2 separate regions of the Homo sapiens genome follow, and region 1 is linked to region 2. The links come from fine-mapping of genetic effects on gene expression. A gene starts in region 2. The other region holds a variant in brackets. All regions are shown on one strand. Distances are from middle to middle. Region 1 overlaps SYT17 (synaptotagmin 17). Region 2 holds the start of SYT17 (synaptotagmin 17).

The links. PIP is the estimated chance that this variant, and not a neighbour inherited with it, causes the effect.
Region 1: its variant is fine-mapped to the expression of SYT17 in whole blood (TOPMed, PIP 0.95).

The regions. Positions count from the first base shown.
Region 1 is chr16:19,207,835-19,213,209 of GRCh38, forward strand. The region is part of intron 5 of SYT17 (synaptotagmin 17); the gene reads left to right. Among named protein-coding and RNA genes, the nearest start is that of SYT17, 42 kb to the left of the region's middle. The variant A/G (reference allele first, on the strand shown) is at 2,722.
Region 2 is chr16:19,165,616-19,170,990 of GRCh38, forward strand. SYT17 (synaptotagmin 17) reads left to right here and starts at 2,625. Exons shown (of 8, transcript NM_016524.4): 1 at 2,625-3,046. The coding sequence starts at 3,032. RefSeq lists a silencer at 2,021-2,270 and an enhancer at 2,462-3,209.

The sequences.
Region 1 (5,375 bases), 42 kb after region 2:
AGGCTGCGAGCTGTGATCACACCACTGCACTCCAGCTTGGGTGACACAGTGAGACCCCGTCTGTAACAAAACAGGAAAAAAAAGAAAGAAAGAAAGAAAATGGAGCCTTACCTCATAACACAGACCAAAATCAAATCCTGATGGTCAGGAACTGATGAATGGCCAAACTTTAAGTTTTATAAGGAAATAAAGATCTTTATGAGCTTAGTATAGCAAAGCACCTCTTTAAAAAGTCAGAAAATAAAGTATGAACCAATGAAGGCAAAGAGGGATGCATCCTACCACATTAAAATGATGAACTTCTGCTTATCAGGAAACATAGTAAAAAGGATTAAAAGGCAAGCCACAGACTGGGAGGATACGTTTGCTATACACATATATTAGTTTTCTAGGGCTGTTGTAAGAAAATGCCGCAAACTGGTGGCTTGAAGAACATAAATTTACTCTCTGCAATTATTGGAGGTGTATTAGTCCTTCACACTGCTATAAAGAACCACCTGAGACTGGGCACTACTAAGAAAAGAGGTTCCGTTGACTCACCGTTCTGCATGGCTGTGGAGGCCCAGGAAACTTACAATCATGGTGGAAGGTGAAGGGGAAGCAAAGCACGGCTTACATGGCAGCAGGAGAGTGAGGGGGGAAGTGCCACACATTTTTAAACTGTCAGATCTCATGAGAACTCACTCACTGTTATGAGAACAGCATGGGGAAATCCACCCCACAATCCAATCACCTCCCACCAGGTCCCTCCCCTGACATGTGGGGATTAAAATTCCACATGAGATTTGGGTGGGGACAAAGAGCCAAATCATGTCAGGAAGGTGTTGGCAAAGCTATTATCTGTACCAGGCCTCTGTCACAGTGTCTGGTGGTTGGCTGGCAATATTTGGTGTCTATTGGCTTATAGATCTCTGCCTTCATCTTCACGTGGTATTCTCCCTGTGTGCATGTCTAAATGTCCTCTTTTCATCAGGACATCAGTCATTGGATTAAGGCCTACCCTACTCCAGTATAACCTTATCTTATTTAATCACTTCTACAAGGACCTTCTTTTTTTTTTTTTTTTTTTTTTTTTTGAGACAGAGTCTCGCGCTGTCACCCAGGCTGGAGTGCAGTGGTACGATCTTGGCTCACTGCAATCTCTGCCTTTCGGGTTCAAGGGAGCTGGGATTACAGACACCCACCACCACACCTGCCTAATTTTTTGTATTTTTAGTAGAGATGGAGTTTCACCATGTTGGTCAGGCTGGTCTCGAACTTCTGACCTCAAGTGATCTGCCTGCCTCAGCCTCTTAAAGTGATGGGATTACAGGCGCGAGCCACTGCACCCTGCCAGGACATTATTTCTAAATAAGGTCACATTCAGAGATCCTGGGGGTTGGAAATTAAATATGAATTTTGGGGAGGGAAATAATTCAACCCATAAAAACATGTAATTGCTGAATAATAGTATCCATAATACTTAAAGGCCCTTCTAGAAATTAATAAGAGAAAGACAAATACACAATGATCAAAAAGAAATGAGCAGGGTTTTCATAGATGAGAAAGCATAAGTAGCTGATAACACAACAAGGTGCTCACCTCTTTAGCAGTCAGGGAAACCCAGATTAAACCCACAAGATACCCATCAGATGAGACTAATGAAAAGCCTGACAATAACAGACCAATATAATCCAGTGTGAAATGCAGCTTGTCAGCCTCACTGGGGGCTTATGGAGGAAGGGCATTGCACTCACATAGAAAGTCAACATTTCGGCTGGGCGCGGTGGCTCACGCCTGTAATCCCAGCACTTTGGGAGACCGAGGTGGGCGGATCACAAGGTCAGGAGATCGAGACCATCCTGGCTAACATGGTGAAACCCTGTCTTTACTAAAAAATACAAAAAAAAAAAAATTAGCCGGGCGTGGTGGTGGGCGCCTGTAGTCCCAGCTACTCGGGAGGCTGAGGTAGGAGAATGGCGTGAACCCGGGAGGCGGAACTTGCAGTGAGCTGAGATCGTGCCACTGCACTCCAGCCTGGGAGACAGAGCAAGACTCTGTCTCAAAACAAAACAAAACAAAACAAAAACAACAACAACAACAACAAAAAACCCTAAGTATCTAGCAATAGGAAAATGGTTAATATAAGTTACAGTATTTCAGCCTAATGGAATGTTGTATGTGAACATTTATAATGACACTTATAATGTCTAGATAGTCACATGGAAAATGTGTGTGTAATTCTTTTAGTTTTATTATATTTTATTATTTTATTTTTATTAGTACAAATTTATGAGGTACACATGAAATTTTGTTACATATGTAATATATAGTGATAAAGTCATAGTATTTAGGGCTTCTATCATTCTGGTACAATACATTTTTGTTAAATATAGTAACACTACTCTACTATCAAACATTTATTATTATTATTTTTTAATTGAGACGGAGTCTTGCTTGAGGCAGGAGTCCTGAACTCCCGGCTTCAAGTGATCCTGCCACCTTGGCCTCCCGAAGTGCTTGGATTACAAGCGTGAGTCACCGTGCCCAGCCCCAAACATTGAATTTTTTCCTTCTCACTAACTGTATGTTTGTACCCTTTAACCCACTTCTCTTTATCCTCTCCCCTCTGATCTAAGGGTATTTTTTTTTAAAAGGGTATTTTTTTTTAAAGGGTATTTTTTTTTTTTAAATACCCTTTTTTTTTCTTAAAGGGTATTTCAGAATGTGACTGTATTGTCA[A/G]TGCAGCTATGCAAATACAGGGTTGAGGTATTGACAAAGACTGGGAAAAAAAGTGAAGAGAAGAAAGAAGAAGAAAGAAAAGGAAGTGAAAGCATTTGATGAAATGTGTAAAGCACTGGCATTGCGGTTGGAGTTTGCTTTTTAAAAAATCCATTTCTATTTTAATGTTGTTTGTGCAGCAGATTAAGAGACAATAGACTTTATCCAACCGGTGAGAGCAAAGGCATAAGGGGGCGCAGAGCAGCTGTGTTTGGGCTTCACTAAAATTTGTGTGCGCACATTTGAAACCCTTTGCTAGGTGAGAGAGAGCGAAAGGACCATAGAGAAGGAGTTCAAAGCAAACCTGTCAGGAGGAGAGCTGGGCTCTTGCTATCTCCAGAAAATGTCTTTTGTCCCAGATGATTTTCTTTGATTTCCTTTTTATTGATTAGAAATTAACTGTGTTGAAAGGCTGCCGGGAGAGAGAATTTTTGTCTGGGTAGAGAGGAGAGAGCTGAGCCACATTTGCCCAAGCCGGCTGCTGGATTCATCTGAGTAATTTACAGATTGTCTATTTTGGTTCTCCCTAGCCCACCCCACGTGGTTCGACCAAATTAAGCGCATCGGGCTCTTACAAGAAAGGAAATGAGGCCTGTTTATTTGTGACATCGCTTCCACAAGGGACGAGGTAGAAGTGGGCCTGTCACCCAGTTCCTTCTCCTGTCTTGGCTTCGATTCTGTGGGGGTTGGATAGGACAGGGGGTGGAACATCGTGCTGACAACCCCTCTCGGCCCGTGGTGTGGCAGCAGCTCAGCCTCTGTGTTGGGGGCTGCACTGCTTGATCTTGGATTTGTTTCTGGTGCTGTGAATATAGTAGTGGACACATGGGCACTTTCTTTGCCTTTATGGAGAAAAAGGTAAGGACCAAGTACCGTGAAGGAAATGACAAGGTGGTGTGATGGGAAATGATGGAGGCAGAGGGGTGTTTTCAACTGAGTGTTAATGGGAAGCTTAGATGAGGAGGTGACTGTTGAGTTGAGATTCCCAGGGAATAGCAAGTTCAAGCCTTGGGGCAGGTACGATCTTGTATTTTTTTTTTTTTTGAGACAGAGTCTCGCTCTGTCGCCGAGGCTGGAGTGCAGTGGCGGGATCTCAGCTCACTGCAAGCTCCGCTCCACCTCCCGGGTTCACGGCATTCCCCTGCCTCAGCCTCCCAAGTAGCTGGGACTACAGGCGCCCGCCACCAAGCCCGGCTAATATTTTTGTATTTTTAGTAGAGACTCGGTTTCACTGTGTTAGCCAGGATGGTCTCGATCTCCTGACCTCGTGATCCGCCCGCCTCAGCCTCCCAAAATGCTGGGATTACAGGTGTGAGCCACCGTGCCTGGCCAATGATCTTGTATTTTTAAAGAATAGAAAGAAGGCAGAGGCGGTTGGTGAGTGAAGTCTCAGAGGTAGGCAGGAATCAAATCATTTGGATCAAATCATTTCGATCCCGTAGATAAATTATTTTAGAGACCATTAGTTCTCAACTGGGTGATTTTTGCCCTCAGTGGACATTTGACGATGTCTGGAGACATTCTGAGACTTTACCACTGGGGAGAGGGGTGATGCCGCTGGCATCCAGTGTGTAGAGGCCAGAGATGCTGCTAAACTTCCTGTAGCGCACAGGACAGCTCCCACAACACAGAATGCTCCAGCCCAAAGTGGCAATAGTGCTGAGGTTGACAAACCCTGTTGTTGACCAGGCTAAGCACTTTGAATTTTATTTTGAGAGATGGAGGGTTTTAAACAGGGAAGTGAGGCCGGGTATGGTGGCTCACACATGTCATCCCAGCACTTTGGGAGGCCAAGGTGGGCAGATCACTTGAGGTCAGGAGTTCGAGACCAGCCTGGCCAGCATGGTAAAACCCTATCTCTACTAAAAATACAAAAATTAGCTGGGCATGGGGGCTCATGCCTGTAATCTCAGCTACTCGGGAGGCTGAGGCACAAGAATCACTTGAACCCAGGAGGCAGAGGCGACAGTGAGCCAAGATTGTGCCAGGGCACTCCAACTTGAGCCACAGAGCGAGATTCCTGTCACAATAAATAAATAAATAAGAAATAAACGGGGAAGTGAGGTAATGGCATGGTTCCGTTTTCTTTTAGAAAACCAGAATATTGGTCTAAATTATTTCAGCTCTGACATTCCAATCTTATCTCACTAAATTTGGATAAGGAAGACTTCACAGAGTTGGAGATCCTACCAGAACAAGCAATCCATTTTCCTTGGGAGGGCTGAACCCACTTCCTAGGAGGATTTTTGTATTTGGTGCTTGGATGTCCACTTTGCAGTGAAAAAGAATGGCTTAAGGAGAAAGAAGAAGGAAGGAAATCTTAGCTGGATCTTTCTGGGCTCTGGATTGTGGCTGGTGCTTTGGCCTCTTCAGATCCAGAGGGGACTGAAGACAGACTCAGTGGAGGCAGTGAATAGACTTTTCTTTCTTCTTAAGAGACAGGGTCTTGCTGTGCCTCCCAGGCTAGAGTGCAGGGGTTCAATCATAGCTTACTAAAGCCTTGTTAGAAACAAATGTGCAGTGTCACAAAGAAAATGAGCACTAAAACAAAGGATTTCCCAGTAAGGCAAAATTTACTTCTGTAGGAAGGTGTTTCTCACAGGTCTAGTCATCAT
Region 2 (5,375 bases):
ATAAACAGTAGAGGTTCTCCTGTCCAGCCAGCTGCCACTGGATTGTCCCTGTATGTAAGTTCCCTCAATAAACCCTGTGTCTCGTTCACTGTCTCTAGGTCTCTTTTTTGGCCTCCTGGACATGGTACTATTCCTAAAGGAGTTAACAGTGGCCTGGCATGACACGCCTTGGGCAAATGACTTCATCTCTTTTTTTTTTTTTCGAGATGGGGTCTTACTCTGTCATGTAGGCTAGAGTGCAGTGGTGTGATCTCAGCTCACTATAGCCTCAATCTCCTGGGCTCAAGCGATTCTCCAGCCTCAGTCTCCCAAGTAGCTGGGACTACAGGTGTGAGCCACCAATGCCGGGCTAATTTTTGTATTTTGTAAAGAAACTTTTTGTAGGCTGGTCTTGAACTCCTGGCCTCAAGTGATCCACCCACTTTGGCCTCCCAAAGTGCTGGGATTACAGGCATGAGCCACCATGCCTGGCCAACTTCACCTCTTAATGCCTCTTTTTTTCTCACCTAAAGAGTGGGATAGTACTTGTGCCTACCTCATGGTAATCAGAGAATTAAAAGATCAAAATTTGTGTAAAGGGCTGAAAACAGTGCCTGGTACACAGACCTCAAAAAGGGTTAACTTTTTTTTTTTGAGATGGTATCTCATTCTGTCACCCAGGCTGGAGTGCAGTGGCACGATCTCAGCTCACTGCAACCTCCGCCTCCCAGGTTCAAGTGATTCTCCTAGCCTCAGCCTCCTGAGTAGTTGGGATTACAGGCACCTGCCACCATGCCCGGCTATTTTTTGTATTTTTAGTAGAGACGGAGTTTCGCCATGTTGGCCAGGCTGATCTCGAACTCCTGACCTCAGGTGAAAAAGGGTTAACTATTTTTACTTATGGGAACACCTAGCAAATTCCTCGAACTCCCTCAAGTGCCCCCAAGGAGCACCCGTTCCAATAGGCATCCTCCTCTGTGAGGCTCACTCCCCACCTGGCATGCCTTGCCATCAGTGCTGGAGAAAGATTGTGGATAAATACCACAAAGTGGTTAGGAGTGGCCACTTTGGGTTCACTGCTGGACTTGTGGGTTCAAATGTCAGTGCCCTGGGCTACCAGCTGTCAGGCCTTCATAGAGGCTTTACCTGTCTGGGCTGCAGTCCCTCATAAATTGGAGATAATCATAGCACCTCCCTCAGGAAGCAGAGTGAATAAGGCAACAAAAACAATTACTGAGTGCCTACTCTGGCTGGACAGGTGCTACCTAATAGGAGTGATCAAGGTACTGCAGGTTGAAATGAAATAACGCTTGTGAAGTGTTGAGGCGTGTATGCCTGCAGAATCATAAGCACTCAATATGCGTTACGTGCTATATGCTACAAACTAAATATATCATACTAAAAAATGTATAGGTCTGCTAGATTTTTAGACAAAAAATATATGCATCTGAATATCCATCTTTTGTTACTCCCATATTCATTTTCTCATTTATTCCCACAAATCAGCCCTGGAGGATAGGCAGGGTGGAGATTTTCTCCTGTTTTTACTGAGGAAAAAGAGGCACTGGGAGGTTAAAATTAAAATGCTGATAAGCTGGTGTCCGGCAACAGGAGATGACTGGGCATATTAAAAAGAAAACCGGCCCGGCGCAGTGGCTCACGCCCCTAATCCCAGCACTTTGGGAGGCCGAGGCAGGCAGATCACTTGAGGCCAGGAGTTCGAGACCAGCCTGGCCCACATGGTGAAACCCTTTCTCTACCAAAAATACAAAAATTAGTGGGCGTGGTGGCATGTGCCTGTAGTCCCAGCTACTCGGGAGGCTGAGACACGAGAATCCCTTGAACCTGGGAGGCGGAGGTTTCAGTGAGCCAAGATTACCCCAGTGCACTCCAGCCTGGGTGACAGAGTGACACCCTGTGTCAAAAATAAAATAAAATAAAATAAAATAAAATAAAATAAAATAAAATAAAATAAAATAAAATAAAATAAGAAATCCAGCGGAGGGCAATGTTCCACCTCGAATCTCTGAGTGGAGAGCCAGAGGCCTTGGGCTGGGAGGTTTGATGGAGGCCTCTGGGTCCAGGGCGCCCCAGCCACGAGGACAGGCAGGAGGGCGGCGGTGGACACGCCCCGGGGCGCACGCTCGCTGGCGGCCGCCTGCCCGTGGGCAGAGGAGCGCACGAGGCCGGGCACGACGCTGGGTGGCGCTGCCGGGCCGCCCCGCGCTAGACCTGTTGCGTCCAGGGCGCAACTCCGGCAGGTTTAGGGTAAAGGGGCGCTCCGCTCTCTCCGCGCGCCCCCTGCAGCCCTGGACGCAGCACCTCCGTTTGGGACGCCCTACGCCCACCTTAACTTGAGGCTCCCATCCACGCAGCCTCTGCAAGCCTCACCGCAACCGTGCTAGGCGCGTCGGGTGGGGCGGGAATAAAGTTTTTCCAACCCAGTTTGGGGAGAGGGCTGGATGGGAAGGACCCTCCCTGCTGCAGACTTCATGGCAGGCTGCACTGTGTCCCCTCGGCTCCACGGCTGCCCCGGGGGCGCTGCTTTCGGTAGGTGCCAGCCCCCGTGCCAGCAGGATGGGCTGACCTGTGTACCGCCCCCTCCCACCCCCTTCCCCATTCCCATCCCCTCCCCCGCCTCCTGCGCGCTCCGGCCCCGGCGTCTCCGGCCCCGCCTGCGCTGGGGTCGCTGCAGTCCCCGCAGCTGCCCCGGGCTGCTTGCCCAGGCGCCCCGGCCTTATTCCAGCCTGGGGAGCGCCTCGGTGGGGAGCACGGGACAGCGAGGGAGGCCGAGGCGGGGGCCCTGGGCGCCCGATATCTCCGAACCGGGGAGGCGGCCCCGATTCCGAGAGCCGGAACGCAGGGAAAGGCAAGGACGGGGCGGCCGGCGGAGGGGCGGGCGCCGCTCATCAGCCACGCCAGTCACGTCTGGGGCCACCGGCTGCCTTTTTCTTCCTTTCCCCCTTTGCTTTCTTCCCCCTCCGCTGTTGGCGAGGGCAAAGTGGCCGTGGCGGCGCCATGCCCGGGCCGGAGTGAGTGCGCGCGGGCGAAAATGGCGTACATCCAGGTAGGGCTGAGGCTGGGGGCAAGGTCCGGGGTGCGGGTAGGGGGTGCCGCGCCCCCTCCGGCTGGGAGCGCGCGGAAGGGAGGGCCCACGGCTAGGCTCCCACAAACTTGCTTCGAGAAAAAGGGTGCCCGTGCGCGGGCAACCTGTGCAGCAACAGGGGTGCGCCCCGGGAGGAGAGACTGGGGACCCCCAAACCCCGGGATGGAGGGTCCTATGTGTACTCTGCAACGCGCGCCCTTGCCTCTTGGGGAGGGAATGGGGGGTGGGGCGGACTTTTCTTCTCCCCTGCCCCCTCCCTCTCCTTGGCACCCCACCCCAGGGGAGGGGCCGTGGGGAGGGCGGCCCGGGGCGCGCCAGCCACCCGGCCCGCCAGCTGCCGTTGCCGTGGTGACGGCTCCGGCTAATTGGCCGGCGGAGCGAGCCTGAGGCAGCTGTTCCGACCAGGAGGGACAAGGACGTCGTCTCTCCTGGGCACTGGGTGCTGAGGGGTGGGGGACACCCAGAGGCCAGAGGCGCGCTGGTGAAGAGAAGGGAGCCTGTTACTTTACTCCGCTGCATTGGGGTCTGGGAGATGTGGACCCTCTTCACCTTGAAGAAACGTCCCCCAAGAATCCTTGGGCTGAAATAATTCTGAAATAATTTCTAAGCAGCCTTTTTTGGGGGGAGGGGGCGGAGGGGTGGGCCGGGCTTCTTGGTGAAAAGACCTTTCTCCTCTGCAAGAAGGGAAGTGACCGCAGGTCAGCGCCAAGGTCAAGCAGGCAGACCCGCAGTGAGACCCGTTGAGCTGCTTGCTTCTGGCGCTGGCGCCTCTGAGCTGGGCAGAGAAGCTTACAGACTCCCACGTCCAGGGTGCATCTTGGCTCACATCTTGTCCCCTCAGCCACAGCTGGGGGTGCTGCTGGTCCTCCCATTCCCCTCTGGGTCACATATCCCCTCATCGTGTCCTCAGACGCTTCAGCCTGCCGGGAACTCTGTGCTGTGTCACCTGGCGGAGCCTCTTCCATTCATCTCCTGCCTTAGATTCCCTGAATTGGCTTCCCTTTCGTGGAATCGCCAGTTTCTCTTCAAGTTCAATGAAGGTCACATTACTGTCCACCCACTGTGTGCTGAATGTTGTCCAGGGGCTATTGAGTAGTCGCCCAACAAACACTTGGGCGACCGCCTACTAAGTGCTGGCACTGGGGATACAGTGATGAAAACAGCACAGTTCCTGCCCCTCTGGGTGCGCAATTTAGTGAGAAATGAACATGATTACCGGCTCCTGGAGTTCTTAATGGCCGCCTTCAGCACAGAGAAATTAAGTGACTTGCCCAAGGCCACATAGCTGCTTAGGGGTCAAGGTGGGATCTCAAGAGGGGACTGTGGTAGATATGTTAAGCATCTCATATGGCGATGACCCAGTGATGTTGGTTTTCCTTCTAGAACAAGGTGTTAAACTTTGTTGTCCTGTAAAGTGCCAGATACTATTTTTTTTCTCTTGGAGGCTCACATGGTCTCTGTCACAACTATTCCACTCTGACTATAGCACCAAAACTGCTATGGACAGTAGTAAATGAGTGGGCGTGGCTGTGTTCCAATAAAACTTTATTTGCAGGCACCAAAATTTGAATTTTGTATACTTTGCACGAGTCAAGAGGCATTCATCTTTTTTTTTTTTCAACCTTTTAAAAACTCACAAATTATTCTTAGCTCAAGGGCTGTAGCAAAACAGGCTGCGGGGCTGGTTTTGATCTGCGAGCCTTAGTTTGCCAACCTCTGTTTAGAATGCATGGGTTGTCTTTCTTCCTCTTTCTTTCTGGTGTGAATTGGTTCTCTTCCATCGGTGTCAAACACGTGAGCCCAGGAGACCCAATGCCAGAAAGACTCAGCATGCCTGGGAATGTCAGGGCACCCTCTTTCATCTTCTTTGCTTTCTCTCTGCTCCTTGACACTCATCTTGCACCTGGGCTTTGAGAAAGTTGGGGAGGCTGTTTTTCAGCAGGGCCATGAGGTGACCTTGTCTCTGTTCACTTTGGTTTCATAAATGGCCTCTTTTGACCACCACATGTCTAGGAAATGCTTCCCTGTATTCAGAAAATGGTCATAGATTATTATGAAAAAGTATCACTTTATCCTAACATTCTAAAGCACTTTTTCATGCAAGCCCTATGAGGGTATAATATTTTGCTGTTTTGTGCCCTGCTGTACCTGCCGGGACAATACCCAGTGCCTACTGGGTTCCACTAGGTCTTGACAATCACCTAATTCTCATCACAGAAAGGGTGCATTTTATTTTTCAGCTGGACCGCACGCAAGTATTTGCATAGTCAGTGTCCTGTCCCACCTCAAC